Linked DNA regions of Homo sapiens. The protein of the gene in region 2 purifies or fractionates together with the protein of the main gene of each other region. This does not show direct contact. Each region holds a gene or a part of one and is shown on either strand. Other genes may lie near its edges. The genes, in order: UBE4A, SELENOS, MAGEA10, UFD1, TRDN, DERL2 and SVIP.

Region 1 (4,480 bases), on a different chromosome or scaffold from region 2:
ATAATTCTAATTGTAAACATGATAACTGCTCAAAAGCAAATAATCAAATTCAGAAAAGCACAAAATAAATACAAATGATCTATTGCCTATCACTTGAAACAATCTATAGTAGTATTCCTTTTAATTTTTGGTGATTTCATGAAAAAGATTTAACTGTATTTCTGTAGACGGTGAGAAACCAAAAGATATATTCAGACAAAGAACTAATATGACAAGATATGTTTTTAAGAAGATATCACTGCTAACAGTATGGAAATTGAATGAGTGTAAGAGGAGACTGGAGACCAAGACATTTACCCTCTTTTTTTTTTTTAACTTCTTTGAGGTTTGGACAAAGAAACCTGTTTGATCCCAGCTGTGCAGGAGCCGAAGTTTCCACAGAACTACAACCTTGTAACAGAGAACCTTGCTCTGACAGAGTACACCTTGTACTTGGGATTTCACAGGTAACTCCTCTGATGTCATTAGGAAAAAACAGTTTAGTTGTGTTGATAACTAGAAGGTAGAAATTGAGTCTTTGGCCAGGCACAGTAGCTCACATCTTTAATCTCAGGATTTTGGGAGGCCAAGGCAGAAGGATTGCTTGAGGCCAGAAGTTTAAGACCACCAACCTGGGCAAGAAAGTGAGACCCCCATCTCTACCAAAAAAAAAAAATTAGCCAGGCATGGTGGCATATGCTTGTGGTCTTAGCTGCTTCAGAGGCTGAGGCAGGAGGATTGCTCTAGCCGAAGAGTTGGAGGCCACAGTGAGCTATGATTGTGCAACTGTACTCCATCCTGGGTGACAGAGTGATAACCTGTTTCTTAAAAAAAAAAGAGAGGAAGAGTCTTACAGATATAATCTGAGCTTATTCTAAAGGTTCACATTAGAATCTAATAGAAAAGGGGCATTGTATGAATTTACTTGTGTTTCATGAATCAGCTTTGTCCAGATTCCTTAAATTTGTTTTTAACTTTTATCGTTGTCGTTGTTGTTGAAATGGATTTTCGCTCTTGTCACCTTGGCTGGAGTACAGTGGCACATTCTCTGCTCACTGCAACCTCCGCCTCCTGGGTTCAAGCAATTCTTCTGCCTCATCCTCCCAAGTAGCTGGGATTACAGGCATGCACCACCATGCCCAGCTGATTTTGTATTTTTTTAGTAGAGATGGGGTTTCGCTGTGTTGGCCAGGCTGGTCTCGAACTCCTGACCTCAGGTGATCCACCACCTTGGCCTCCCAAAGTGCTGGGATTACAGGCATGAGCCACTGTGCCTGGCCTGTTTTTTAACTTTTGACCTGTTAAACTTTAAAAATTAAATCACTGTCTTCCTATTGTGATCTGGGAAAGTGGAATTGTTTTCATTTTATATTGCACTTTCTGCTCTTAAATTTTCATTACTGGCCGGGTGTGGTGGCTCATGCCTGTAATCCTTTGCACTTTGGGAGGCCGAGGCAGGCAGATCACTTGAGCCCAGGAGTTTGAGACCAGCCTGGGCAACATGGCAAAACCCCGTCTCTACAAAATATACAAAAATTAGCTGGGCATGGTGGCGTGTGCCTGTAGTGTCAGCTACTCACGAGGCTGAGGTGGGAGGATCTCTTGAGCCTGGGATGTTGAGACTGCAGTGAGCCGAGATTGCGCCACTGCACTCCAGCCTGGGCAACATAGTGAAACCCTGTCTCAAAAAAAAAAAAAAAAATTTCATTACTACTCCTGGTGATAAAAGATGAAGTTCAGCCGGGCGCAGTGGCTCATGCCTATAATCCCAGCACTTTGGGAGGCTGAGGCAGGCAGATCACAAGGTCAGGAGATCAAGACCGTCCTAGCTAACATGGTGAAACCCCGTCTCTACTAAAAATACAAAAAATTAGCCCAGCTTGGTGGTACGCGCCTGTAGTCCCAGCTACTCGGGAGGTTGAAGAAGGAGAATCGCTTGAACCTGGGAGGCGGAGGTTGCAGTGAGCCGAGATGGTGTCACTGCACTCCAGCCTAGGCGACAGGGCGAGAATCTGTCTCAAAAAAAAAAATTAATTAAAAAAAAGAAAAAGACCAAGTTCTACTCTACAGATAGAGACAAAAGTGGCAAATATTAAGGAAATGTTTATAAGGGAGCTAATGAGATCAATAGGACCACAAAAGACATTAGATAAAGAAGATTCTAGAAATGTTAAGATTTTAGAACTAGAATGTATGACTTCCAAAAACAGTTCTGGTTCTGGCTATTCATTATTCTGTAATTTGTTTTCCTCTGATTTAGCTGATTATGACAGGTATAAGTAGAGGAAGAAAACAGCAACTCAGTCATAGAAAGGGACACTAAGAATAGCAATTTTTAATGCCTTCTCAAGATACCTGAATTGATGCAGAGCATTTTTCAAAACTACTCAGTCAACACATTGCCGGAAGAAGGAAATTATGTCTTTAGAGAGAAATCTCCATCATAGACATTTTAAATAAGACAGTAGATAAAAGTTCAGCATGTGCTTAAGCTGCTCAGCTGCCTAGATTCAAACAAAAAATGAATATCATCTAGTTTCCCAATATTAGCTAGCTCAAGACATTATCTACAGGGCCAAAGGAAATGATTTTGGACTATTATCCATAACTTTGAATTATGTGTCTTCCTTTCAGTAGAGAATATTAGGCTGACCTTTTCTGAAGAATAATTTAATTTAATATTGAACAACAGAGAGCTGGAAGCTGCTCTTAGATTGCATCTCAGGTGGCTACTAGTTTATATGTGGTCATTACTAATCTAGAGTCCCTTTTCACCAGCTTAGTTTTCTACTAACCAAAGAAAGACTATCCATATAACCCCATCAAAGTATGATCATTGCATCAAAGTATGATCATTGCCCTTGTGTGATGTAAAACTATCCTGCTGGCCTTCTTGTACTTTGCCTAATAATTATTTTATGTAATAACAACCCATTCTACACCCTACTCAACCAAGCTGCCTTTCTTTGGATAGTGCATTTCAACTGAAGGCTGCTATTTGCAATTAGCTTCAATTATGTTGAATACTTGGCAGCATTTTCCCATTGCTGTGCACCCTGCCTGTGTCCTGTCAAAAACTTTTGTGAGTGCCTTCTGTGTCATTGCAACTGCAACTCCCTACTATCCTTAAAGAGAAGGCTAGATAAATAATTGAGGATTTGTTTTTTTGTGACTTTCTGTTTTCCCTGACCCAGTCTCTTCTGCTTTCTTGGGGGCAGGTTGCATGATCAGATGGTAAAAATCAACCAAAATCTGCATCGGCTGCAGGTTGCCTGGCGGGATGCTCAGCAAAGTTCTAGCCCTGCTGCTGACAATCTTCGTGAGCAGTTTGAACGACTGATGACCATCTATCTTTCTACCAAGACTGCCATGACAGAGCCACAAATGCTACAAAACTGCCTAAACTTGCAGGTGTCCATGGCTGTTCTACTGGTTCAACTGGCCATAGGCAATGAGGGCTCACAGCCAATAGAGCTAACCTTTCCTTTGCCAGATGGCTACAGCTCTTTGGCTTATGTGCCAGGTAAGCAGGCTCTCCCTTGGGAATGTCCTGTTTATAGCCTTCTGAGTTTAAGTGGGTCACTTTGGAAGTTTAATCCTCAAAATACCCTTTCTTCGTTATCATTCAGTTGTTTTTGGAGAAACAACTCAAACTTAGATAATATCTACTGGTCAAAGTATTAGGGGACTAACAGTTTGTTCCCTCAACCTTGTGTCCCCCTGCTATGCATATCAGAAAATCATCTTCAAAGGATTAAGTGTAATCAGAGTTTTCAGAGCTGTTAGTTTCTATCATTAATATTTGTTCAACTTACACATTCATCTAACTTTCCCTGTCCTTTTTGTAGAAAAAAAATTAGCTCCTGCTGGTTAACTCAGAAGGGAAAGAGTGTGTGTGTGTGTGTGCGTGTGTGTGTGTGTGTGTGTGTGTGTGTGTGTGTGTGTGTGTCAGTGAGTCATTGAGGGGTGGGCAGGTGTTGTCAATCTAATCAGGTTATGTGTTCTTAACCATTGTATTGGCCATATCATGCTGAGTAACAGATTACCCCAAAACATAGCAGCTTAAAACTACAGACTGGGTATGATGGTGCACGCCTGTAATCCCAGCACTTTGGGAGGCCGAAACAGGATGATTACTTGAGCCCAGGAGTTCAAGATTGGCCTGGGCAACATAGAGAGACCCTATCTCTACAAAAAATAAAAAATTAGCCAGGCATGGTGGTGCACACTTGTAGTTCCAGCTACTCAGGAGGCTGAAGTGAGAGAATCGCTTGAGCCCAGGAAGTTGAGGCCACAGTGAGCCATAATTGCACTACTGTACTCCAGCCTGGGTGACAGCAGGACCCTGTCTCAGAAAATAAATTAATTAATTAATAAAATAACAACAACAACTGCAAACAGCTCACTCACCTGCATTGTTCTGACTCAGAGTTCCTCAGGAAGTTATATAGCCAAGCTGTCAATCAGGGCCTTAGGAATCTGAGGACTCTGCTAGGGCTGG
Region 2 (5,035 bases):
CCCAAGCATTGATTGAAACTGTTTTGGTATGAGTTTCCTGAGAGAAAAGTGAGGCCCTAACCATTTTTTTCCATGAACTATGACCCCAGTACGGTATACCTAATGTCCTTCACAGCCTAACAAAATAGTTGAGGCAACCCTGCTCATCCTGTCTAGTTTATCAGTATTTAGATGTAAGGCGGATTTAAAGCTAATCTGGGACTGAGAATTGCAACTAATTCCATAGAAGTCATTCAATTTAGCACATAAATGTTCCTGCAAGATGCCAGAGCAAGTGAGAAATCATCTGTAGCAAAGCAAAGAGTGGTGATGGTTCATCACCTTTTACAACGGAAAGGCAAACATGAAGAAGGAAATTCTCCCTCCTAAAATTCCTCATTAAATCGATAAGCTATCTTCACAGCCTTTATGGATAACATCCAGAGTCCTCGGTTCATCTGAGGAGTCCATTTTCAAGGTGGCCAACAGGGAAGAAGAGCTTTCAGGCTTCTCTTTGCTATGGCTCATGAATGCCAGGTCCCCTTTATTGCTTTCTGAACACACTGCTGGGAAAGCTTGATGAGGTCAGTGCTCAAATCCCTGCAGCTGTCCCCCTTGAGGAACTTCTTGGCAAACCTGCATTGAAGAAACACTGATTGCGTTCACGCTTCATGTCATGGTTTGCCTTCCCCACACTGCTCCTGGCGACAGTGGTGACGCAGCACTCGGATGTTGTCACCTATTCATTATTTTTTCAGTTCTATTCCCAATTCCCAACCCTTCTTTTGAAACACAGCTAGGTATGTGCACTTCAAATGCTCCAGAAAAACCCAAGGTCACATTTCAAATAGGATGGTTATGGTCACCATAAAGGTGGTGACGTTTGAGTGGTGGAAGAGGGTGCGGGACGGCGTTGCAGGCAGAGGAACACAGCCAGGACACTATTATAAGTAACTCTGTGATCGTGTCTTGTGGTGATACAGTATAATTCAACACAGGTTAGAGCAGTTACTATGATCGTTCTTTCCTAAAAGGCTTTGATTTTGGAGAAAGAACCTTGAGGATCGGTGGGGACTTTCTTGGCCTGAAAGGTATCACCAGCAGCAGGAGCAGGAGGCTGCTCACATTTCGTGTCTTCACTTGGGGTGGACGTTGGCTGCAACCCTCAAATGCTGGGAGTCGTCAACCAACTGAGCCCTGTTGTCCAATGTGCCCCGGGCAAGGATGTGGGTGCAAATCCTGCTTCCGGGCGACCACTGACTTCCTTGGCTTCAGTGTCCAATTAGAAAAAAAAAAGAAAGTAGAAATTCGGTAAGAAATCCGTGAACGAGGTCCGTCCTCCACCCCCGACTCAAGCCAAGAGATAGCACAGAACGTTCCCACACGCGCTGTCCCGGCCCCGGCGAGCGTAGCCGGGATTTCTCCCCCGCCACGCCCCTCGGCCACGCCCCCCTGCGTTTGGCCCAGCGACGGGGCGGGGTCGGCCTGCGATTGGCCGGGACCACGACCGCGTCCGGGCGCGCCACGTGTGCGTAGGAGCGCACCGGAAGCGCCCGGCTGGAGGCGCGGCGGCAGGGCTGGGCGGCGGCGGCGGCGGCGGTCATGGAACGCCAAGAGGAGTCTCTGTCCGCGCGGCCGGCCCTGGAGACCGAGGGGCTGCGCTTCCTGCACACCACGGGTGAGTCGTTGCGGGGCAGCCGGGCGCGCGCCGCCACTTTTGCGACGCGCAGCCATGATGGGTGGGTCGTCCGCCGCTGCACCGGGCGCCGGAGCCTGGGAGGCCTGGGAACGGTCGGGCGTTGGCGCTTACGCGGACCTTGGGCAGCAGGCCCGGACCTTGCGCGGAGGCTTCTCGGGAGCCGCACTTCCCTGGGCGGCTCGGCTGTCCCTTGTTTGCGCAAGTCTTTTTTGCGAACCAAGCCCTTCCTGTGGTAGTTACTGGGGTCACTCGGCCGTTGGCGTTTGCCTCTGGGACCCGTCCCACACAGCCCCATACACACTCCTGACTCCCCGCGCTGTCACCCCTTTCTATGTGGCTCTGAAAGGCCTTTGCCTTCCTGATTCAGATTAGTTGCTCTTCATTCTTCAAAACCCAGTTGCTGTGCCCTCCACACTCTAACTGCCCCCGACTCCCCAGATGGTTGGGAAGTCTCACTTCTCAGTGATCCCTGAATTGTCGCACTTCTTGAGTTCGTGTTTTAACGATCTACTTAGGAGGCTTTTTCCTCAGCCTAGACCATGAAGGCTTTGAGGGCAGGAGTTACACTTTGTGTTTGTTGAGTCTTATGGAAAGGTCAACTAGTAGTGTCATTTTTAGTTTTTTGAAAACTGTTTTTCTTTTCAGTGGGCTCCCTGCTGGCCACCTATGGCTGGTACATCGTCTTCAGCTGCATCCTTCTCTACGTGGTCTTTCAGAAGCTTTCCGCCCGGCTAAGAGCCTTGAGGCAGAGGCAGCTGGACCGAGCTGCGGCTGCTGTGGGTTAGTGCCTGATAACCGAAATGAAAGCGGTGGTTTTGCACCTCCTTTATATTAAGAGTTAGTCTCTTAGTAAAAGTAAGAGGGGCCACACAGGAAGACCCTGTCTCTATTTAAAAAAAAAAAAAATAGCCGGGAGTGGCGGCACGCACCTGTAGTCCCAGCTGCTCAGGAGGCTGAGGCGGGATAATCACTTGAGTCCAGGGAGTCAAAGCTGCAGTGGGCTATGCTCGGGCCACACTACACTCCAGCCTGGGCAATTGATTGAGACCTTGTCTTTAAAAAAAAAAAAAAAAAAAAAGTAGGAAGTATATGGTTCTCGGTGGGGCGCGGTGGCTCACACCTGTAATCCCAGCACTTTGGGAAGCCGAGGCAGGAGGATGACTTGAGGTCAGGGGTTCGAGAACAGCCTGGCCAACATGGTGAAACCCTGTCTCTACTAAAAATACAAATATTAGTGGGGCGTGGTGACGGGCACCTGTAATCCCAGCTATTAGGGTGGCTGAGGCAGGAGAAATCGCTTGAACCTGGGAGCTGGAGATTGCAGTGAGCTGAGATTGTGCCACTGCACTCCAGCCTGGGCAACAGAGTGAGACTGTCTTTTCTTTCTTTTTTTTTTTTTTTTCTATGAGATGGAGTCTAGCCTTGTTGCAAAGAGCGAGACTCTATGAGTAGACGTTATGAATAGAAATGAGTTCATTTCTATTCATAATGCTATTTGGAAGGATTTTTCTTTTCTGTAGAAACAAATACTTAAGAATCTTCTGCGCTAATTAAGGGATGGATAATGATTTAGAAAACTTTATATTTCCTTGGTAGTCTTCCAGGATTCTAGTCAGCCTAGAGACTGTGGGTGTCACTGAGGTATCCAAGATGTGCTCTGTGTGGCCACTATCCCAGGCTTTATGAATCGGAATTGCTCAGGGGAACTCAGAAATTGGCATTTCTAACAGATTTCTGGTGATGTAGATATTTCGGGCTAAAATCCGTGGCTCAGCAACAGACCCCTGCCCCCTGAAGCAGTAAAATGTATGCAGAGGGGTTAGGAGTACTTATGTAAAAATATGTTGTTTCATTGTCTGATATCCATACCTCTTTATACTTTTAATAATATGGACACTCAAAAGTTTCTATTTTATATTGTACACAGTGCTTTATCTCCATTTTTTTCTGACATTTTAGAACCTGATGTTGTTGTTAAACGACAAGAAGCTTTAGCAGCTGCTCGACTGAAAATGCAAGAAGAACTAAATGCGCAAGTTGAAAAGCATAAGGAAAAACTGAAACAAGTATGAACTGGTTTCAGTTTGAATGTGTGCATAGAAATTGTCTGAGGTTTAGTGGCTAACGATGCCTGTGTCTGTGTTGTCTATAAGCTTCTAGGACCAGGTCCTATCCCATTAGATTCAATAAGCATTTCAGTTCCTACCATGTAAGTATTGGTGATATCAAGAAGAATACACGATTGTTAGGGAACACTAGATGTGTGAATATATTACCATGAAAGGTCCAGAGCACAAAAGGAGGGACAGGCTGGAGCAGGGAGCATGTGAGTGTGTGTGTGCATGTGCCTGTGTCTTCCCCATTACCAAAAATGTCCTGACAGGAGTGAGTTTCAGAAGAATGGAGTCAGTAATCTTTTTCATGAAACATTTTGCTTTCTTTAATAGTGTACAAAAACCAAAGCTGCTCTATGTGAGTTAAACTCACACTACCAGATCACAACAGTTTTATTAACTAAAGAAAACGAGGGTGAAGTTTGTTCTGAAAGACATTTAAATTAAGAATTATCAGAGTTAGCTTTGTCTTTGAGAGAAATGGCAGCTTCTGAATTCTTTCTGTAAAATGTGATTGTTTCTCAGCTTGAAGAAGAAAAAAGGAGACAGAAGATTGAAATGTGGGACAGCATGCAAGAAGGAAAAAGTTACAAAGGAAATGCAAAGAAGCCCCAGGTGACTGGAGACCTCGGCCGGCTGGCATGCGGTAGATGAAGATTGCCAAGTAGAATGTTTTAATTGCTTCTTACACTACTGTGTGTGTTCAAACAGGAGGAAGACAGTCCTGGGCCTTCCACTTCATCTGTCCTGAAACGGAAATCGGACAGAAAGCCTTTGCGGGGAGGAGGTAAGCACCACTGATGTCAAATGTTAACAGATTTTCAACACTTACAGGATATAGTTACCTTTTAGGAACAAGATTGTTTGTTTCTTTGTCCATAAATTAAGACTAATTCCTTAGGATTGTGAAGATTCAATAAAGGAAACAGATGCAAATCACCTCCTAGGTCCTCACTAAGTACTTAGAAGGATTGTACTTATAGTATTCTAACTTGATCCTTCTGCAGCCCCGTAGAGGGAGAGCTAAGTAGGGTGAGGAATTGTCTGCCAATCTTCAGATGAGTGTCAAGGAGCTGGAACACAGTGGTTTTGGTCTTTCTGGCTGGGACCACCTTGTTTCTTGCAAATAACAAGGAGTAGCAGACAGATGCTCATCCAAAGCTGCTTCCTGTGTGCAGCACTGCCCCGGGGACTCTGGATGATGCCACAGCAGTCTGTCTTCATCCCATCCCTGAGAATTTCA
Region 3 (3,748 bases), on a different chromosome or scaffold from region 2:
AGGAGCTCCAGGGACTGTGAGGTGAGGCCTTGGTCTAAGGCAGTGTTTTCAGGTCACAGAGCAGAAAGGGCCCAGACAGTGCCAGGAGTCAAGGTGAGGTGCATGCCCTGAATGTGTACCAAGGGCCCCACCTGCTCCAGGACAAAGTGGACCCCACTGCATCAGCTCCACCTACCCTACTGTCAGTCCTGGAGCCTTGGCCTCTGCCGGCTGCATCCTGAGGAGCCATCTCTCACTTCCTTCTTCAGGTTCTCAGGGGACAGGGAGAGCAAGAGGTCAAGAGCTGTGGGACACCACAGAGCAGCACTGAAGGAGAAGACCTGTAAGTTGGCCTTTGTTAGAACCTCCAGGGTGTGGTTCTCAGCTGTGGCCACTTACACCCTCCCTCTCTCCCCAGGCCTGTGGGTCCCCATCGCCCAAGTCCTGCCCACACTCCCACCTGCTACCCTGATCAGAGTCATCATGCCTCGAGCTCCAAAGCGTCAGCGCTGCATGCCTGAAGAAGATCTTCAATCCCAAAGTGAGACACAGGGCCTCGAGGGTGCACAGGCTCCCCTGGCTGTGGAGGAGGATGCTTCATCATCCACTTCCACCAGCTCCTCTTTTCCATCCTCTTTTCCCTCCTCCTCCTCTTCCTCCTCCTCCTCCTGCTATCCTCTAATACCAAGCACCCCAGAGGAGGTTTCTGCTGATGATGAGACACCAAATCCTCCCCAGAGTGCTCAGATAGCCTGCTCCTCCCCCTCGGTCGTTGCTTCCCTTCCATTAGATCAATCTGATGAGGGCTCCAGCAGCCAAAAGGAGGAGAGTCCAAGCACCCTACAGGTCCTGCCAGACAGTGAGTCTTTACCCAGAAGTGAGATAGATGAAAAGGTGACTGATTTGGTGCAGTTTCTGCTCTTCAAGTATCAAATGAAGGAGCCGATCACAAAGGCAGAAATACTGGAGAGTGTCATAAGAAATTATGAAGACCACTTCCCTTTGTTGTTTAGTGAAGCCTCCGAGTGCATGCTGCTGGTCTTTGGCATTGATGTAAAGGAAGTGGATCCCACTGGCCACTCCTTTGTCCTTGTCACCTCCCTGGGCCTCACCTATGATGGGATGCTGAGTGATGTCCAGAGCATGCCCAAGACTGGCATTCTCATACTTATCCTAAGCATAGTCTTCATAGAGGGCTACTGCACCCCTGAGGAGGTCATCTGGGAAGCACTGAATATGATGGGGCTGTATGATGGGATGGAGCACCTCATTTATGGGGAGCCCAGGAAGCTGCTCACCCAAGATTGGGTGCAGGAAAACTACCTGGAGTACCGGCAGGTGCCTGGCAGTGATCCTGCACGGTATGAGTTTCTGTGGGGTCCAAGGGCTCATGCTGAAATTAGGAAGATGAGTCTCCTGAAATTTTTGGCCAAGGTAAATGGGAGTGATCCAAGATCCTTCCCACTGTGGTATGAGGAGGCTTTGAAAGATGAGGAAGAGAGAGCCCAGGACAGAATTGCCACCACAGATGATACTACTGCCATGGCCAGTGCAAGTTCTAGCGCTACAGGTAGCTTCTCCTACCCTGAATAAAGTAAGACAGATTCTTCACTGTGTTTTAAAAGGCAAGTCAAATACCACATGATTTTACTCATATGTGGAATCTAAAAAAAAAAAAAAAAAAAGTTGGTATCATGGAAGTAGAGAGTAGAGCAGTAGTTACATTACAATTAAATAGGAGGAATAAGTTCTAGTGTTCTATTGCACAGTAGGATGACTATAGTTAACATTAAGATATTGTATATTACAAAACAGCTAGAAGGAAGGCTTTTCAATATTGTCACCAAAAAGAAATGATAAATGCATGAGGTGATGGATACACTACCTGATTTGATCATTATACTACATATACATGAATCAGAACATCAAATTGTACCTCATAAATATCTACAATTACATGTCAGTTTTTGTTTATGTTTTTGTTTTTTTTTAATTTATGAAAACAAATGAGAATGGAAATCAATGATGTATGTGGTGGAGGGCCAGGCTGAGGCTGAGGAAAATACAGTGCATAACATCTTTGTCTTACTGTTTTCTTTGGATAACCTGGGGACTTCTTTTCTTTTCTTCTTGGTATTTTATTTTCTTTTTCTTCTTCTTCTTTTTTTTTTTTTAACAAAGTCTCACTCTATTGCTCTGGCAGGAGTGCAGTGGTGCAGTCTCGGCTCACTGCAACTTCCGCCTCCTGGGTTCAAGCGATTCTCCTGCCTCAGTCTCCTGAGTAGCTGGGATTACAAGTGTGCACCACCATACCCGGCTAATTTTGTATTTTTTAGTAGAGATGGGGTTTCACCATGTTGGCCAGGCTGGTCTCAAACTCCTGACCTCAGGTAATCTGCCCGCCTCAGCCTCCCAAAGTGCTGGGATAACAGGTGTGAGCCACTGCACCCAGCCTCTTCTTGGTATTTTAAAATGTTGTTACTTTTACTAGAATGTTTATGAGCTTCAGAATCTAAGGTCACACGTTCGTTTCTGTTTATCCAGTTTAAGAAACAGTTTTGCTATTTTGTAAAACAAATTGGGAACCCTTCCATCATATTTGTAATCTGTAATAAAATAACATGGAATTGGAATAGTAATTTTCTTGGAAATATGAAAAAAATAGTAAAATAGAGAAAATAATTTTAAGTGTTAGTATTTTTATTTCTTTATTATTTTTAGTTTATCATCCTGCAAAATTAAAAGTTATATCCCTGGATCTTGTTAAGTCGAAATTAAACTGTAATAAATGAAACCTTTGCTCACTAGTGCATTTTTTCCCCAAACATCCACTGAGCATCTGGTCTGTGGAAGGCCCTGGGTCTGTAGTGGAAATGTTAAGCCAGAACCACCTTTACCCATAGGGTGGTAGAGTCTAGGGGCTGCAGTCAAGTAACAAGGTGGCAAGATGTCCTCTAAGACCCAGAAGAAAAGTAAGACGGGGTGAGGGTATTGGGCTGTAGGTGAGAGTGGTCACGTACATCCTCTGAGCCAGGACTTTTGGGGCTTTGAGAAACTGCAGTTCCTTCTGGTGAAGATGAATCCAAAGAAGCTGGGTGGTGCCAGGGTCAGAGCCTCACATAGTTGACAGAGCAAATCCTGGGATGTAAAACTGCTCTGAGCAGTTCCTTTTGGGTGGTGGATGAACAGAGAGGAGTCCACCTGGGGCAGGAATGGAAGGTGTTCTGCACTCTTGTCTCAGTGCAGTTGAACTCCTAATTAAATTAAAAAAATAACTAGGTGATAGATACCCATCATATGCAAGGGTCTCCTGAGAGATAAGGATCTCATAATAAATAAGCCTATGAATTGATGCCTAGAAGTTAGCTGACTCCATTAGAGAAACATTTTAATTGGGTTATTTTTAGTGTAATTTGAACAACACTAAGCAAGGGCTAGATTTTGAGTGGTGATGAAATGAATGAAAATCATGATTTGGATGGAAAAGAACCTTGGAGAGAGGGAAGGAGTTGATACTTGACTCAAATTCCATGAACTTTGAGCAGCATCCAGCAGGGAGAAACTCCTGCACATGAAATGTTGAAAATATATCCTCTAAGAGGGAAAATTTACTGAGTTTTATATGTGAAGCAACATTTGTGACTGATTTGGGATTCCATGTTCCACTGAGCTGCATATTCTGAGATGTACTGGATAACAATGACAAAAATTCCAGAGAAGACTGTGGTGGGGTCTGAGGTCAAATAATATTAGAAATAACAGCCATCTG
Region 4 (4,480 bases), on a different chromosome or scaffold from region 2:
TCTGTTTTTGATCTTCAGTACAGTATTCAATAAATTACATGAGTTATTCAACATTTTATTATAAAATAAGCTTTATAGTAGATGATTTTGCCCAACTGTAGGCTAATGTATGTGTTCTGAGAATGGTTAAGGCAGGCTGCACTATGATGTTTGGTAGGTTAGGAATATTAATACATTTTTAACTTATAAGTTTATGGGACTTGGTTCCATCATAAGTCAAGGAGCATCTGTACAGTGGTATTAGTGACGTTGGTATGAGCATTCTTAGAATTTTCTCATTGGGTATAGCTAGTTATTTACTTAGAATAAATTTCGAAGGCCGAGTGCGGTGGCTTATGTCTGTAATCCCAGTTCTTTGTGTGGCCGAGGTGGGCGGATCACCTGAGGTCAGGAGTTCGAGACCAGCCTGGCCAACATGGTGAAACCCCATCTCTACAACAATACAAAAATTAGCCAGGTGTAGTGGCACATGCCTATAGTCCCAGCTACTAGGGAGGCTGAGGCAGGAGAAGTGCTTGAACCCTGGAGGCGGAGGTTGCAGTGAGCCAAGATCGCACCACTGCACTCCAGCCTGGGCGATAGAGCGAGATTCTGTCTAAAAATAAATAAATAAAATAAATAGTAAAGTTCCAGAAGTGAACTTTCCAGGTTAAAGGTTGTTAGTGTCTTTTGCAGTTAGCTGTATAACTACCTTGTCTAATTTGAACCATATCTGGGGAACAGCATCTCTTCAGCGATGGGCACAGGGCAGCCTGTCCCTTATGGCAGTGTTGTCACAGCAAGAAGTGCAGCTGTAGGTTGTGTCATGGGCATGAATGCTGTGTCATTCGCAGGAGCCAGTAGAGCCACAGTAACATGGACAGCGACAGCTCCAGTGCTGCCAGGAAACCATCCAACTGATTTCTGTGTTTGCCCCACAGATCTACGAACTGCGTGTGATGGAGACCAAACCCGACAAGGCAGTGTCCATCATTGAGTGTGACATGAACGTGAGTGGCTCTGTCCAGTTACAGTGAGCCTGGGCCCTGGGAGGATGGGCAGTTGGTGACCACTGCAGGCCAGGGTGTCAGGAGGGCATCAAACAGCCCCTGGGACTCTGGGTAAAGAGGAGGAAGATGCTGTCAGAACATCATGAGGAGACTGTGACCTTGTGATCTATCTCAGGGCCAGTTGGGGCAACAGAGTTTGCTGCCAGTGCTGCCATGGTTAGCTCTGACCCGTTGAGGAGTGAATATTCTTTTTTTTTTTGAGACTTAGTTTCACTCCTGTTGCCCAGGCTGGAGTGCAGTGGTGCGATCTTGGCTCACTACAACCTCCACCTCCCAGGTTCAAGCGATTCTCCTGCCTCAGCCTCCCGAGTAGCTGGGATTACAGGCATGTGCCACCAGGCCCGGCTAGTTTTGTATTTTGGTAGAGACAGGGTTTTACCATGTTGGCCAAGCTGGTCTCAAACTCCTGACCTCAGGTAATCCACCCGCCTCGGCCTCCCAAAGTGCTGAGATTACAGGTGTGGGCCACCGCGCCTGGCCGAGGAGTGAATATGCTTAAGAGCTAAGGAAGCGTACTGAACCTTCTGAGTAGGAATGAAGTGCTGATGCACACAGCATCCTGGTTGTATTACTAGGGAATACTGCTGAGCAAAAAAAGCCAATCCCAAAAAGTTACTTCGTTATATAACATCCTCAAAGTGACAGAACTTTCGAAATGGAAGACAGACCAGTGGTTGCCAGGGCTTAGGACTGGTGGAGGGGGCTGGGAGACAGCTGGGTATGGTTATAAAAAGACAACATGGGCAGTCCTAGTGGTGGTGAAACTGTTCTACATCTCAACTGTGGTGGATACATGCCCCACACAGTGATTACATTGTGTAGAACTAAAGATACCCATGAACAAAAACATGTAAAACTGGGGAAATCTGAATAAGAGCAGTGGGTTGTGCCAGTGTTGATATCCTGGCAGCAATACTTTACTGTAATTTTGTAAGATGCTACCGTTGGGAAAACTGGGCAAGTGTACAAGGCATCTTTTGTATTATTTCTTAAAACTGCATGTGAATCTACAGTTGTCTCAATTAAAAACAAAAAAGGAAGCCAAGGGTGGTCATGTCTCAATATTTTACTTTTAAAATCCTGGAAACACAGGTGGACTTTGATGCTCCCCTGGGCTACAAAGAACCCGAAAGACAAGTCCAGCATGAGGAGTCGACAGTAAGTGTTATCCTCAGTGTCCTTTGCTGTCCTGCTGCATGCTGCTTTTGAGTTCCTGGCAGTGGCTCGTGGGTGGCCTCTGCTAGTGTTGGTGTAGTCATATCCTCTGCGTCCCTTCCAGCCATGCTTCCGGGGGACATCCTAGCCGGGGGTGGGGGTGAGAGGGAAGCTGGGTGTCCCCGCTGAGGAGCTCACCTGTTTTTCTTTTTCCCTGTCAGGAAGGTGAAGCCGACCACAGTGGCTATGCTGGAGAGCTGGGCTTCCGCGTGAGTACCAGACCACTTGACTTATATTGCTGTGCCCTCTGCTCCTTGAAATTAGAGCACTCACTCAAGGTGTTCTCCATGATGCTCGATGGACATCAGCAGGGGTTAGGCCTCTGGGTACCTGTGCATATGCAAATCTGCCACTCGCTCAGTTACCAAACCCTTTTGTATCCACTCTCTCCTGGAATCTTCCCAACAGCCCCATAAGGCAGCCCAGATTTTTAAGAATTTCTAACCTACCGAAGAGTTTAAATAGTACAGTAGACATATACTGTTCCCTTAGGTTCACCAAAAGTTACCACATTTGCTTTCTCTCTCTTGTAAATCATGTTTCCTTTTTTCTTTGCCTGTACCATGTAGGTTGCAAACATGACCCTTAGCATAACTACTGGCAAGGCTCCATGGGAAACAGGTGGAGGTGGTTCATGTGTGGGCACTGAGGTGGCAGGAGGTGCCAGGAAGCAGCAGAGAGGGCAGAATGATGGGAAGCTGAGCTATGGGGCAGTCACAACAGTAGCCTTAGCCCACCCATAGAGCTTGAACTGGGTGGCCCTGCAGAGGCAGGGATCAGGTCTTTTAACCCAACACTGACTGCTGGCTGCCCTTGGCCAAGTGGCTGTCTTCAGCTCATGGCCACCCCCTGAGGAACTGGGCAGAGTTCTTAGCTGCCAGCACCCCAGCAGTTGAGGAGTCAGGGCTTCAGTCCTGAAGGGGTCTGCACAGCACCCCCAGCTCACATCCCTGCAGTGATCTCCAAGCAAAGGACATATCGTCCTCACACTTGGGCTTATTATATGACTCACCTACTTCCTGTCTAGGCTTTCTCTGGATCTGGCAATAGACTGGATGGAAAGAAGAAAGGGGTAGAGCCCAGCCCCTCCCCAATCAAGCCTGGAGATATTAAAAGGTAGGTCTGTCCTGGCTCTCCTCCAGGACAGGAGGAGGATCTGTGCCAGCCCGCTGGGGTCGGGCAGCCTCACCCCAGTTCTGGAGACAAAGCCTGGGTCAGTAGTCTCCCAAGGGACTAAAACCCTTAGCTGCTCTCCTTGGTGGGGTGGAGCACAACATGCCCCTCCTTCCACAGTGCCACCCCCAGTACCACTGTGGTCCAGCCTCTCTCCATACCTCTCCATACCCCCAATTCAGCCTCTTCTTGCCCCCACTGGCTTTCCTAAGATGCGAGTCTGATTAGATCTGTCTCTTACTCAAAACCTTTCTGGTCCCTATTTGGTGATCTGCCTATTTTCCTGTTTTGTGACTTGGAATTATTAATCAGGTCACATTATCTCAGTTCCCCTGAAAGTTCCCTGAGGAGCTACCTCAGATGTGCTTCTGTTGCTGGGTCCGGGGACCCACAGCAGACCCTTCCTCTGGTGGCCATGATGGCAGGGGCAGGGCTGAGGTGTGTCAGTTGTCTGTTGTGTGTGTGAAATCAGAATACTGGAGTGAGAGTCTAGCCACCTCAGGGGGTTCTGTGAAGCTCAGGACAGTGACAGTGAGGGCTTCCCAATCCTTCAGATGACCCCTCTCCATAGACAGGTACAGAGCCTAAAGCCCCTGGCCCTATACCCAATATTGATACCAAACCAAGAAGTCAGTTACTTTCTGCTTCCCTCCTGGGAGGATGCCAGGAAGCACCAAAGGGCCCAGGTGGGGTGCAGCAGCATCTTTTCTGCGTTCCTCTTGACTGTCAAAAATGAATTTTAGTCCTTTTTTCCTGGAAATAACATTTCTCTGTCTCTGTCTCTTCTTACAGAGGAATTCCCAATTATGAATTTAAACTTGGTAAGATAACTTTCATCAGAAATTCACGTCCCCTTGTCAAAAAGGTTGAAGAGGTGAGTGTATTTCCTTGTATTTCCTTGGTTGGTAATGAGGAGATTTATTTGCTAGTGATGACTGAAGTTCTTGGCATTCTGAGTAGGGGTGTGCATTAGTCTGTTTCCAAGCTGCTGGTAAAGATGTACCCGAGACTGGGCAATTTACAAAAGAAAGAGGTTTAATGGA
Region 5 (3,536 bases), on a different chromosome or scaffold from region 2:
TATTTTGCCATTATGAGAAAGAAAAACATTTTACTTCACAGAAAGAATGTATTAAAGTGAAATGAAAATATTTTTATATTTGTCACCCAAATTTAGTGATTGATCTAAAATTTCACCCAGGTGACATTTTTATTAAGACACAGTCTGGAGAAATTTCAGAATTCCACATCTCATTTGCTAATATTTTAAACAAACGATTCACCAGACCTGACTAATTGAATGGTGTATTTCCACTGGACTGAATGTCCTAATTATCATTCAAGACATATCTTAAAGATTTATCAAGCATTTACTCTCCACCTTACCATGTCTAAAGCTCAGAGATATTTTGAGCTCTAAAAGAGTATCACAAGAAATTTATAGCAGTCTGTAGTACAACTATTACCCATTCTTAGAGCAAAGCCACAACTAAAATAGAAATAGACAAAAATAAAATAAAATCATTAAGCATCAACTTATTGGGTAAATTAAGTTTAGATACCCATATGATGCAAAAGGGTCACTTTTATATAAGCTTCCCCATCTTTTAAACTTAGAGCACAGTCTATGTTGTCATTAAAAAAATAATAGCTAACTGAAGCCAGGAATTCATTTTGCAATTGTGTCAATTATTTTAAAGATACCATTATTAAGTAAACTTTAAATTAGTTTGTGTACAACCTTATAGTGACTGGAAATAAGATAAATACAAGCACCCCCTCCCACCGCAGCAAACACACATAACAGATTCTTGAGACTTAGACCCTTAAACATGTCTGCTCATCACTCAATCCATTTGGCCACCCTTTCCGTCCACACCAGGCCAAAGAGCAAAATGTTTTCACAGAAATTCTCTGGGTTGCATATTCTTAATTGCCTGAACTACTGTGGACAAAACATCACATTTTTAAAATCTTAAAGCACTTGTAAGGGTCATACATGTGTGTTTACTGTCCTTGTTGCTTCTGTCCTGGAGAATTTGCTTGACCAGAGCTCTCTCCAGGGCGGTCTGCAGGAGTGAAAGGAAACTGAAATCCATAGCCATTGTACCCATCCAAGTAGACACACTGGAAGAAACTGATGGGACCTAAGGAACAGAGCATGACAGTTTGTTAAAACATGCAGAACATGAGCAAAAAAGCACAGTGAGGCAGTGCAGTGCAGCAGATAAGGTCACAGATTCTGCCAGCAGCCTCCGTAGCTGTTGGCAAGTTACTAAACTTCACTGTGTCTTGGAGTCTTTATGTATAACATCAAAACAACGAAAACCGCACAGAAATATTATGACAGTTAAATGAGTTACATGAGTTACATGTGCTCTTAAAATTCTTCCTGGTATGTAATAAGCCTTTAATAAGTGATAATAAAAATGGCCTGGCAGAGAAAGTCAAAGTTCTGATCATATAGACATCTGTTGATGTGCATAGCAATCATAGAGACATAGTCACAGGTTTCAAAATATGAGCTTATCAATATGCAAAGCAACAGACTGTGTGTGTGTGTTTTATAATGTCACAGAGAGGTGGTGCCAACATCTAGAAGTTTTATTTGCCCTTACTTTAGAGGCAAGAGCTTTCCTAAGGTGGCTTGGTTGCTCTTTGAGCAACAAAGGTAGCAGCCAGGTAGCAGCTCTGAGTAGAAAGCAAAACAGGAAAGTTAAGGGAGTGTGGTGCAAGTAAGGACTCTGGACTCAGTAAGCCGGTGCTCCCAGGTAGCAGCTTTGGTAAAAGATGGCGAGTTTAGCATCTCCTCACAATCTTGGGTGCCTACAAACTTCCAGTGTTTTCTATCCTATCCATTTGCATTCTGTCAACCAGCCATAGATTTTTGCAGAAGGCCAGGAAAGAAAAATCATAGTTAAAGCTAGTGGTGTGTGGGAGATAAAGAAGATGGCCAAATCCATATGAGACTAGGGGTTTATGAAGTAGAATAAAGCAAAGGATAGGAAAAAAGGAAGCTGGAGAAGCAACCAGGGAGTATTCTGATTCCATTTCCATGGGTCACTGGGTTTTCAGGGATGACAATAGTTTGAAGAATCTTGAATTTAGTTATCTTTTCCAATGCATCTCATCTGGAATGATTTCTCTTTTCTTCTATCTTCAAACCGAAGCAATAATACAACTTCCGTCTCTTCAAGTTTGTGGAGGTTATGGGAGCTTGGGGGTTAGGCAGGCTACAAGAGGGACAGTAGTAAAGCCGGCCCTGCACAAGGAGAAATGGAAATCCATTGCTAAAAGTAGAAGGGCCCATCAATGACAGGCTGCCTTCCAGCTGCTTATCAGAAGTGGACACTGTTTTGACACATTTATTTAATTGATGTTGAATAAGCTACTCATTAAAATATTATTATGACTGCAAATATTAGAGCTTAAATTAAAGGCTCATGAATATCAGGCTATAGAACTGCCTTCTTGTAAGACGAAGATAGCAAATATCATTTTGATGCAATAGATCCCCCAACTGAGGTTAGAATATTTGACACCATTTTACTAAAAGTATTTGCGTTTTGTTTTTAATTAAAATTTTTACTTTGAAATAATTGTAGACTCACATGTAATTGTAAGAGTTAATACAGAAAGATACCACATATCTTCACCTAGTTTCCTTCAATGGTAACATATTGTAAAACTATAGAACAATATTCCAACTAGGAAACTGGTATTGATACAATTCACCTGTCTCATTGAATTATATTTTAATAGTTATTTAAAATATATGAGATTTCAAATGTTTATGTGACATAGCCACAAATTATTACCAGTAGGTTAATAATTGGGAAAGCGTTGCTATATAAAATGAAAATATGTCCAGATTGACCTATAATTCTTTTTCTTATGGATTTTGTAATATTACTCAAAGTATCATAAGACTCTGCTTATTTCCCTATATTTCTCACAACCTTATTATATGAAGGATTATAATAAGTGTCTTATCTACTGCAGTAGTTCCAGCATCCAAAGAAGTACTTGGAACATAGTAGGCATTCAGTATCTGTCTAATGAATCACCTATTAATACAGAGTAGGAGGCATTTGCTATTGTAAGGGGCACTTTAGTAATTTCCTGCACAAAAACATCCAAAAAGCACTGGAGAATCAAGAGACGTCATTTCTTCAGACAAATATCTAGCTCTTTACTTTAAAAGCATTATGTGACACAAACTTCAGTTATACCTATTTCAAAAATTGCTTCCTTTATTCTGTTCTGCAATGACTTTAATGCAAATACAGATTTAAAATTTATTGCTTTACCATATGAACAAAAATGTCTAATTTGGAAGAACCGAAATAATGAGAAACTTGGGCATTGAATTTTGTAACTGCACATGAATATTGATTGGATTCTAAAATAAATGATCCCAAAGTTTGAATATTTAGAACCTACCATACATCTAGCAAAATCAAAAAGAATCTTGAATCTTAGAAGTGAGTTTCCAAGCAATTGAATTGCTAAAACCTATTTCTTCATTTTTTCTACCTGATATAAAAAAATTTGGCATATTACTTCAGCTGTCCTATTATAAAGCAGGCAGTAAGACACATTTAAGCATAGATTCAG
Region 6 (4,480 bases), on a different chromosome or scaffold from region 2:
GAGTACAGAGTTGTAGTTCTGTAGGATGAAGAGAGTTCTATGGATGGTGGTGATGGCAGCAAAACAGTATGAATATACTTAATGCCACTGAACATTTAAAATGAGTTAAGATGGTGAATTTTATGTTAGGTATTATTTTACCACAAAATTTTTAAAAAATTAACAAGGTATCCCAAGAAAAATTACTGCAGAACATAGGAGGGGATAGTAAATGTCCAAAAGACTCCCTAAGTACTATGATGTAGTAATTCAAAACCTCACTAAAGAAGGAACCATTAAAGCAGCATCCTCAATTTGCACTTATATTTCTACTTGTAATCCTCCACAGTTGATAAAATTAGAAATGTATCTGAAAACTTCTGATTTATACTGGAGTCAGAAAATAGTATAATTCAAAATGAGTTTTTAAAATTCTTACAAATTAACAATAAAAACAAACATACCAACAGAAAAAATGGGCAAAGGGCTGAATATGCAATTCAAAAAGGAAATCCATGTGGTCAATAAACGTGAGAATGTTTGCTCTCACAATAATCAAAGGAAAGTATATTAGAAACTGAGATCCCGGCAGGTGTGGTGGCTCATGCCTGTAATCCCAGCACTTTGGGAGGCCGAGGAGGGTGGATCACCTGAGGTCAGGAGTTCAAGACCAGCCTGACCAACATGGCAAAACCCTATCTCTACTAAAAATACAAAATTAGCCGGGTGTGGTGGCGCATGCCTATGATCCCAGCTACTAGGGAGGCTGACGCAGGAGAATCGCTTGAACCCAGGAGGCGGAGGTTGCAGTGAGCCGAGATTGAGCCACTGCACTCAAGCCTGGGTGACAGAGCAAGAATCCGTTTCAAAAAACAGCAACGACAACAAAAACAAAACTGAGATCCCTTCTACTGCCCAAACATTAGCAGGATGGGGGTGGGGGCACAGCCTGGTATAGGGAGTCAAGAGCCCCATCAGACCATGCACACATGGAGGTGGCCTGACGAGATGTTAGCCCGAGTAGGATGGGGAGGCATCCCTGTAAGAGGGCAGCCTGGTCTGGGGAATCTGAGGGTGAGTGAGATAAGCAAGGCATCCATATGGGAGAGGTGGAGACTATCCCGAAAGACTGGTTACATATGAGGGGTAATTAGGTAGGTAAAACATTAATCATAATAAGAATCAGGTTAGGACAGATGGAAAGGGCAGATGGAAAGGAGTGGTACATTCATACAACCAAATAATATTCAGCAATAAAAAGGAACAAATTACCAATAAATACAAGAACACAGATGAGTCTCAAAAACATTATGTTGAATGAAAGAAGCCTTATACCAAAGAGTACATGCATACTGTACAATTCTACTCATGAAGTTGTAGAACATGAAAAACTAATCTACAGAGGAACAAAACCAGAATAGCAATTGCTTCTTGGGGGACAGGTACAATGATTGACAGGGAAGGACATCAGGGAACTTTCTGGTTGATGGTAATTTTCTGTCTTGATAGATACACAGATGTGTGCATTTATAAAAACTCAGTTGACACACTCAAGATTTGTGTATTTTGTTGCACATAAATACTAAACTCTAGTTACTGATATGCACACTCAAGTATACAAGGAATTAAGTATACATATAATGGCACATACATTTTGGATTGGAAAGCTAGATGTAGGGATAGGTGTGCAATAAGAATAGGGAACTATTAATTACAGAATCTATGTGGTGGCTACATGAAGCTCACTCCAATTTTTTTCTGATTTCCTATAAGTTTGTTAATTTTCATAATAAAATATTGGAGGAAACCAATAGGAAAAAAGCTAGAATGAACCATGAGGTAGTACTAGAAATGGGAGTATAGTATAAACCCATGTTTTAAAAAATACATAGATCTAAAAATATACACATGTATACATTATCATACATACATACATATAATTCCATTGCTCTGTTCACTGAGAGGATCTGGGAATAGCAACACTCCAATAGCAATGAGCACATCTAGCACCCAGATCTTGGCTTCTAAATACCATTCTCCACTTTAAAGGAACCAGGGCTCCTTGAAGAAACAGCTGATTCTAGGACTGGATCAAGGAGAGCACAGGATGAGCCTGGTATATCTTGTTGTGCCAGAAAACAATTGCAAAAAAATAAAAAAATAAAAAGTGGGGTGTAGTGGCTCACACCTGTAATCTCAGTGCTTTGGGAGGCCAAGAGACAAGAGGATCACCTGAGGACTGGAGTTCGAGACTAGCCTGGGCAACATAGAGAGACCTTGTCTCCACAAAAAAAAACATTTAAGAAAGAAAATAAGCAGAGCTTGGTGGTGTGCACCTGTAGTCCCAGCTACTCAGGAGGCTGAGGTGGGAGGATCACTTGAGCCCAGGGGCTTGAGTTAACAGTGTGCTATGATCATACCACTGCACTCCAGCCTGGGCAATGGAGTGAGACCTGTACTGCATATGTAATTTCTTGTAGGACTGAAATTGTTTCAAAACATTTTTTAAAAATCATAAACAATGAGACATCATCCTACAACTATTCAACTAGGAAAGGGTAAATAAAATGCCTTCCTTGTTTGATTAGGATGTGGGGAAATGAACAGTTATAAATGCTAGTTGAAATGTAAACCTGAACATCCATTCTGGAAGGCGTTTGGCAACAAAATAGGAATTCTACTTCTAGGAATTATCTTTTGAAAATAATCATGGATGTGTGCAGAGATTTAGCTACAAGGACATTCACCACTCCAATTACAGAAGAGAAAACCAAGCACTAACGTCAATGTCCATCAACAAGGGATTAGTATAATTACACCATATCCATACCATGGAATATCACCTGTTATAATTTTATAACACTTCAGGGTGGAAAAAACAATTATGGCATACTAAGTTTACAAGGTTACAAAAATTGTTTTTTGAGACAGGGTGCCACTCTGTCCCCCAGCCCGAAGTGCAGTGGTGCGATCTCGGCTCACTGCAGTCTCAACCCTCTGGGCTCAAGCAATCCTTCCACCTCAACCTCTCGAGTAGCTGGGATTACAAGTACATGCCACCATATGCAGCTGATTTTGGGATTTTTTGTAGAGATGGGGTTTTGCCATGTTGCCCAGGCTGGTGTCAAACTCCTGAGTTCAAGTGATCCGTCTGCCTTCACCTCTCAAAGTGCTGGGATTACAGGAATGTGTTATGTTGTCCAGGCTGGAATGCAGTGGCTATGTTAAAGGCCTAGCCCAAGAAGAGCAGTGGCTGTTCACAGGCGCAATCATAGTGTATGCAGCCTTGCCTGGCTCAGCGTTTTTTAAAAAGTACACAAAGACTGAAGAATACACATTGAAAAGTTAACAATGGTGGCCACTGCTATACCCAAGTGTCGGGATAGTGGACAATTTCACTTTCTTCTTTTTTGCTTACTATTCTACAACAAACATTTTATAACAAAAACTCACATTTTACTTCTCAATTGAGCCCTTTTTAATATGGCATCTCCCAAGGATACCAAATTCCAGAGTAGAAAGAGGTCTCATAAATCAAAGTTCTACTGCACTCCAGCCTAGGTAACAGAGTGAGACTCCATGTAAAAAAAAAAAAAAAAAAAAAAAAAAAAAAGAAAGAAAGAAATCAAAGTTCTATCTCAGGAAACTGAAGTGCAAAAAAGAAAGGACTTGCTCTATGGCTGGTCAGTGGGACAGCTACACCTGGTTTCCAGTCCAAAGCTATTTCCACTCTGCTTCACTGCTTATCTCAACCACCTGCTTGGCAGGCCACAAAGTCCACCATCAGAAACTTTCATCAGTTTTGCCCATTTTGCTACCTTACTTCACTAAACGTGGACAGCAGCTTTCATAAAACCAGCAGGCTCCTACCAGAATAGAAGTTCTAGTGGTCATCTCTAACAATTACCAGGTTACTCCCAAGATATCTTGAGCCTGTTGACGTTGGTCTTGCCACAACCCTGGCACTGTCTGCTCCTACCCAGTCCAAGTGCTCTTCAACTGTAGCCAGAATGCTCAATCTGCAAATGGTTACTGACCTGAGCTATGTGTACTAGGAGCTAGGGGAGCCAAAGAAAACACAGATCATGCCCCTGTCCTGGTTTGCCTGTAAGAGTATGTAACCTGGTGTTAAATACTCACAAAATAGATGGTGTTTTCAGAATTCTTATTCCACCAGGTTGATTGGGAAATACATCTTCCAAGAAAAAATATATGTGTCCAACTGCAATACCTAGAGTCAAGCAGAAATAAAGGATGAGGGAGAGAATTAAAATTTAGATTGCAGGTAGACCTACCAACACAAATTGCCTATATTTAGGATGAATGTCAACATAATTATTAAAAATTAATGAACTAATATTGTGGTATTTTACAATAGGTAATACGTGAAGGCCAAACAGAATAAACATGAAAAATAGTAACAAAATACTTTTACAGGTAAAATAATTTAAAAAATAGTGAGAAGAGCCTTACCCAAAAGGTCCACAATGATTGAGTTCCC
Region 7 (5,095 bases), on a different chromosome or scaffold from region 2:
TGGAGTGCAGTGGCGCGAGCTCGGCTCACTGCAACCTCCGCCTCCCGGGTTCAAACGATTCTCCCTGCTCAGCCTCCGGAGTAGCTGGGATTACAGGCGCCCACCACCATGCCTGGCGAAGTTTTGTATTTTTAATAGAGAAAGGGTTTCCCCACGTTGGTCAGGCTGGTCTTAAACTCCTGACCTCAGGTGATCCACCCACCTTGGCCTCCAAAAGTACAGGAGTAAGCCACCATGCCTGGCCTTTTTTTTTTTTTCATACATTTCAGTGAGACAGAGATAGCGCTTACAATTTCACGTTTTCTAAACACAATGCTAAAGAGGAGGTGGGTAGTTATCTTTCTCTTTTTGCAACAGAGAACCTTCACTTTTTCTTTATATATTTTTATTTACCCTTAGAAACGGCCCATGCAATCGAATAATAGTATTAAAAAAGCATCATCCCCTATTATTTAAGGAATAAACTACTGTTTCATTCAATAACATGGAAGAATTTAGAAAATATTATGGCTTTTGCAAAACATATTGTATATTTCATTTATGTAAAACTTAAAGACTATAGTGATATTAACATTTATGCAAAACTTAAAGACTAAAGTGATATTAAACAAATTAATAGTTTCCTGGATCTAGGTATAGGATAAAGTATTGAATGGGATTGGGTACAATAGAAGGTTTTTGGGTGATGGAAAACTTACATATCTTGAATGTGGTGATCACATGTTTGTTAAAACTCAGTGAACTCTACAATCAAAATAAGTGCATAATATTATATGTAAATTATACATCTATAAAAAATTAACCAGCAAGTATATCAAAAAGCCGACAATGGTTTCTGAGACGCTGTCACTATACATCCTACCTTTTTGTAATGTTTGAAAATTTTTACATAAGCAGAAATAACTAATAGAATGCAAAAATAAAATAAAATAAAATAAAAGCATTTGTGTGGAGACGAGATCAGTAACTTTAGTATCACCTGTGGGTTTACTGGAAATGAATCTCAGGTCCCACCTTATACTTACTAAATCAGCAAGTAAATTTTAACTAGTTGCCCAGCTGATTCTCATACTTATTAAAATTTGAGGAGAATCATTAAAACATTTCTCAGTAGATGAAACTTTATTATTTCTCTCGGAAGGATAAATGACTTCTAAATACCAGAAACTAGTGGAAATGTCAACTAATGCCACATTTATGACGCTAGATTCATCGTCATAATAATGGATTTTATATTCTGCCCTCTGTTCTGGAATAGCACTGTCACTAAGAAGGGAGAAAAGGGTGCTGATGTTTACTTGGAATTTTGGCTTTAATTTCTAGGACACCAGAGTCCCATCTCATAAAAAAAGGTAGCATGAACTACCCAGAGCTGTACCACTCATTCATTTATAAATGGTAAGGCAAGGTTAGCAGGAAGAGCTTTGGAACCGTAGCGAAGCTTTTCCATCCCTTCCCTGCATTGCTACCCACAGCAGGTGTTTCCTGGAACCTAGGCTTTGGCCACAAGCCCAGCGGTCGCGGGGCGGGGGTAGGCGGAGCTGTGGGTGAGGAAGGGGCAATGCCTTAAGGGGGCGCAGCTGAGCTGTGGGACTGGTTGGTGTCGCGAGAAGAGGGGGGCGTTGCCGCAGAGAGGCGAGGCGGGGCAGAGCTGCGGGGTGGGGGCGGGGCGTTGCCGCTGGGGCGGAGCCGAGCCAGTGGAGGGCGGTGGGGGCGGGGCAAGCGCGGAGGACCAGGGACCGGCTCCGGACCGCGCAGTTAGCGCCGCCTGGCCTGGGCCGGACCCGGTCAGGGTTCTCAAGCTGTCGTCCCTATGGGGCTGTGTTTTCCTTGTCCCGGGGAGTCCGCGCCTCCCACGCCGGACCTGGTGAGTAGAGCAGGTCCCTGCGTCCGCCGGGCCGCGCCTTGAGCACCTGTCCTCGGGTTGCGGGGCGGGCCGAGCCATTGTACCTGGTGGCGCAGGTCGAGAGCCCGCTGGGGGACCCTGCTAGCGAGGACGGGTGGACGCGTCAGGAGGGTCGTTGGGTCCTGTCAGAGCGACCTAGGCCGTCGCCTCCGTGTAGATCTCCACTTTTGTAACAAAAAGTTGTCGAAAGGCGGCTGTGGCGTCTTTCTACCTTCCACTGACTTTAGCTGCGCCGGATCTTCATAGGGCGCCGGCGCACGCAGAGGGCGTTACGCGTGGGACATTCCGGGGGATGTGGTAGATGGAATTCGGCGCGAAAAGACATTGCTTTCTCCGGGAGCTCTTTAGTCGTCTAGGAGATGTGCGTTTTCAACTGTGTCTACCATCTTTTAAAAGAAGGTGCTCGGAAAGTCGCTTATACGCCTGAGCTTTATCGGATATGTTTTTTTAATGATTTCTTTTTAGTATTTATCTCATTCTTTTACGTTCTCCCTTTAAAAGAATATGTAGTACAGAGTGTCCAATTTATAATGTCGTATTTAATAAAAATACTGGACACCCAGTTACATTCGAATTTCAGATATACAAGGAATACGTTTATAATATCGTTTTGTGCCATGCAATATTAGGGATCTAGTTCTACAAAAACATTACTCATTGCTTATCTGAAATTCAAATGTAGCTAGTGGGTGTGTGGTACAATACATGTACACTTTTTGTAGCTTTCTGTTAACAGTATCTTTACATTAGTACTCCTTACAGGGAGTTAACATAAACCTGTTTCTCTTCTCTAGCTAAAAATTAGTTGAAGAAAATGAAGTATTTTTGGGAAGTACATTAACTCTTCAGCTACTATAGATACTAAAAATTTAGTACTTATAAATTTGATGTGGGAAAGTTCAGCTTCTCTTTGTTGCTGCTGTTGTTTTAAATTAAGTTGATTTTGTTGTTCTGGCTGTCGATAAAATATAACATGTCAGATTTGTTAAGCCCTCCCCCCCATCCTCATACTATACCCTCTTCCCTTGATAACCACACGGCTCACTGCTTGGATGTCACTTTACCAGTGAAGCTTTTGCTGACCACGTTAAACAAAATATATTCCCCACAATACCACCCACCCATTCTCCCATTACTTATCTGCCATGCCATCTGACAGACGTTTACTTACTTCATTATATTTGTCTGTGCGCCCGCAATTGGAATTTGTTTCATTTGGGAGGAGACATTTATCTATGTTTTTACACTGTTGTATCCCAGCACCTAGAAAAAGGGCTTTATAATAAGTAGTACATGGTCTAGAAAAATAGCATTCACTGTTTTCTGATATGGAACAATACCTCTCATGAAATTACTCCAGTCCTTCCCTCCTACACACTGAGATTAGCCCACTTCATTTATTAACCTTTCCTAAAAACACCAGGTTACTTCAGACTCCATTTTAACCGGCAGTAACAAACCATGTATTTTCCTTTTTGTATTTGTAAACATTATTTGTTTTGTTATTGCCCTGACTAGCTTGTAGGCCTTTTTATTAAAAAAGAGAGTAAATAAATGATTATATAGGTAAACCTTGTATCTGTTTTAGCATGTGCTGATTTGAAGGCATATTGATTAGGAGAATGAAATTCAAAAAGTTGAGTAGTGGCATTCTTTGTGGGACATTTAGGGCCAGTACCGAATATTTTTGTAAATTGTTATAGTGCCTATGAAATAAATGTGAATAATTTATTAATAATAATGTTTGTTATTTTAATACATATTTTTACACATTTATTTAGGAAGAGAAAAGAGCAAAGCTTGCAGAGGCTGCAGAGAGAAGACAAAAAGAGGTAAGATTAAAGATCAAGTTTTGCCTACTTAGATAATTGAGTTTGGACTTTATTCTTCATAGATGTCCATAGCTAGATTTTCTAACGCAAATGGCCTTTGATATCCCAAAAATTTACATTTAAATGTAATTATTTTCAAAATGATTTCCTTATTTATATGAATTGCATTAATATATTTATATTAATATATGAAAACTATCATATCTTCTCTAAATTCAGATACTCTTTTAGTAACATCCTTCCTTTTAAAATGGCTGTGCATTGTAAAATACTTACAGATGTGAAGCAAGTTTAGGGGAAAATTTGTATAGTTACAAAATACCCAGTGAAGAAATGATGTTTTATGTAAGGCTGTTGTAGAAACACTCCTTCTATGTTACCAAAAATAAACCAACTCCCTACCCCCAAAGAAAAACCTAGAAAGCAAAGATAGACAAAAAAATGTTTTGCACACTGGACAGATTTTTGTTGTCTTTCTGTTTTTCTTATCAAATTTCTTCAAGGCTGCATCTCGGGGAATTTTAGATGTTCAATCTGTGCAAGAAAAGAGAAAGAAAAAGGAAAAAATAGAAAAACAAATTGCTACATCCGGGCCCCCACCAGAAGGTGGACTTAGGGTAAGTATTAAAATTTTCTTAGTGATTAACTTAACTGGCATTTTAAAAAAACTTAAGTAGCAATCCATTCATAATTTTCTCCTGAAATGTATTATCAGAAAATTTTGAAATAGTTTAAAAGCATGAGTAGTAAATATTGGAAGTAATACCAATTTATTTTAACATTTATTGGAATCAATTAGCTTTTTTCCCCAAAATGAAATAATAGATTTATTATTTTAACACTATATATATTTTAATACTCTTATGCTTACTACTAATCTTAAATAATTCAAAAATTCAAGCAATATGGAGAAGTATAAAGAAGTGTAAAAGTCATCCAAACTAAGTACCATTTTGACAGACATAATTTCTAACCTTCATTTATATATCTTATTAAATTGGATTACGCTATAAGTTCTGTTTTATGGCCTGAGCTCTTTTACGCATTGATTTGGAATCTTTGATCTTTCCATTGCCCCTGTTTATTATAGTTATGTAAATGTTAATTTGGATTACAGAATGTATACAGGTGTGGGTATCATACACATACCTCCCTAGATATGGATCCCAGAGCTAGACACTGGGAATATAATGGTGGACAAGTTAAGCAGAGTCTCTGAATGCTGGAGTCTTTACACTCTAGCAGGACTTTAAAGGATTTATTTTTAAAATCCCTTAAAGCTCAGGAAAATAATGGCTCAGATATTAAGAATTTATTCTTGGTCCATTTTTAAAGTAAATAGTAGTATATTTGTGAA

The links.
Region 1: the proteins of SELENOS (region 2) and UBE4A purify together in Homo sapiens (affinity purification with mass spectrometry; one large-scale study listed by BioGRID and IntAct). This does not show direct contact.
Region 3: the proteins of SELENOS (region 2) and MAGEA10 purify together in Homo sapiens (co-immunoprecipitation; one large-scale study listed by IntAct). This does not show direct contact.
Region 4: the proteins of SELENOS (region 2) and UFD1 purify together in Homo sapiens (affinity purification with western blotting, with the first as the bait; one study listed by BioGRID). This does not show direct contact.
Region 5: the proteins of SELENOS (region 2) and TRDN purify together in Homo sapiens (co-immunoprecipitation; one large-scale study listed by IntAct). This does not show direct contact.
Region 6: the proteins of SELENOS (region 2) and DERL2 purify together in Homo sapiens (affinity purification with western blotting; 3 studies listed by BioGRID and IntAct, with this or other methods). This does not show direct contact.
Region 7: the proteins of SELENOS (region 2) and SVIP purify together in Homo sapiens (affinity purification with western blotting; one study listed by BioGRID). This does not show direct contact.

The regions. Positions count from the first base shown.
Region 1 is NC_000011.10:118,376,249-118,380,728, forward strand, and holds part of UBE4A (ubiquitin conjugation factor E4 A), read left to right. Parts: intron 1-325; coding exon 326-446; intron 447-3,197; coding exon 3,198-3,502; intron 3,503-4,480.
Region 2 is NC_000015.10:101,273,964-101,278,998, reverse strand, and holds the start of SELENOS (selenoprotein S), read left to right. Parts: upstream 1-1,513; 5' UTR 1,514-1,581; coding exon 1,582-1,657; intron 1,658-2,323; coding exon 2,324-2,458; intron 2,459-3,637; coding exon 3,638-3,744; intron 3,745-4,317; coding exon 4,318-4,407; intron 4,408-4,503; coding exon 4,504-4,579; intron 4,580-5,035. UniProt on the Homo sapiens protein: Involved in the degradation process of misfolded endoplasmic reticulum (ER) luminal proteins. Participates in the transfer of misfolded proteins from the ER to the cytosol, where they are destroyed by the proteasome in a ubiquitin-dependent manner.
Region 3 is NC_000023.11:152,132,335-152,136,082, reverse strand, and holds the end of MAGEA10 (melanoma-associated antigen 10), read left to right. Parts: intron 1-2; exon of another isoform or gene 3-93; intron 94-248; 5' UTR 249-322; intron 323-397; 5' UTR 398-462; coding exon 463-1,572; 3' UTR 1,573-2,773; downstream 2,774-3,748. UniProt on the Homo sapiens protein: Not known, though may play a role in embryonal development and tumor transformation or aspects of tumor progression.
Region 4 is NC_000022.11:19,454,580-19,459,059, reverse strand, and holds part of UFD1 (ubiquitin recognition factor in ER-associated degradation protein 1), read left to right. Parts: intron 1-920; coding exon 921-989; intron 990-2,141; coding exon 2,142-2,207; intron 2,208-2,425; coding exon 2,426-2,473; intron 2,474-3,291; coding exon 3,292-3,380; intron 3,381-4,229; coding exon 4,230-4,311; intron 4,312-4,480. UniProt on the Homo sapiens protein: Essential component of the ubiquitin-dependent proteolytic pathway which degrades ubiquitin fusion proteins.
Region 5 is NC_000006.12:123,217,675-123,221,210, forward strand, and holds part of TRDN (triadin), read right to left. Parts: intron 1,067-3,536; coding exon 927-1,066; 3' UTR 1-926. UniProt on the Homo sapiens protein: Contributes to the regulation of lumenal Ca2+ release via the sarcoplasmic reticulum calcium release channels RYR1 and RYR2, a key step in triggering skeletal and heart muscle contraction.
Region 6 is NC_000017.11:5,475,935-5,480,414, forward strand, and holds part of DERL2 (derlin-2), read right to left. Parts: coding exon 4,453-4,480; intron 4,211-4,452; coding exon 4,120-4,210; intron 2,066-4,119; coding exon of another isoform or gene 2,023-2,065; exon of another isoform or gene 1,915-2,022; intron 1-1,914.
Region 7 is NC_000011.10:22,826,467-22,831,561, reverse strand, and holds the start of SVIP (small VCP/p97-interacting protein), read left to right. Parts: upstream 1-1,760; 5' UTR 1,761-1,813; coding exon 1,814-1,867; intron 1,868-1,950; exon of another isoform or gene 1,951-2,207; coding exon of another isoform or gene 2,208-2,267; exon of another isoform or gene 2,268-2,305; intron 2,306-3,687; coding exon 3,688-3,738; intron 3,739-4,241; coding exon 4,242-4,355; intron 4,356-5,095. UniProt on the Homo sapiens protein: Negative regulator of the ER-associated degradation pathway (ERAD) of misfolded proteins. It competes with AMFR/gp78 for binding VCP/p97, and inhibits AMFR/gp78-VCP/p97 complex formation that is required for degradation of ERAD substrates.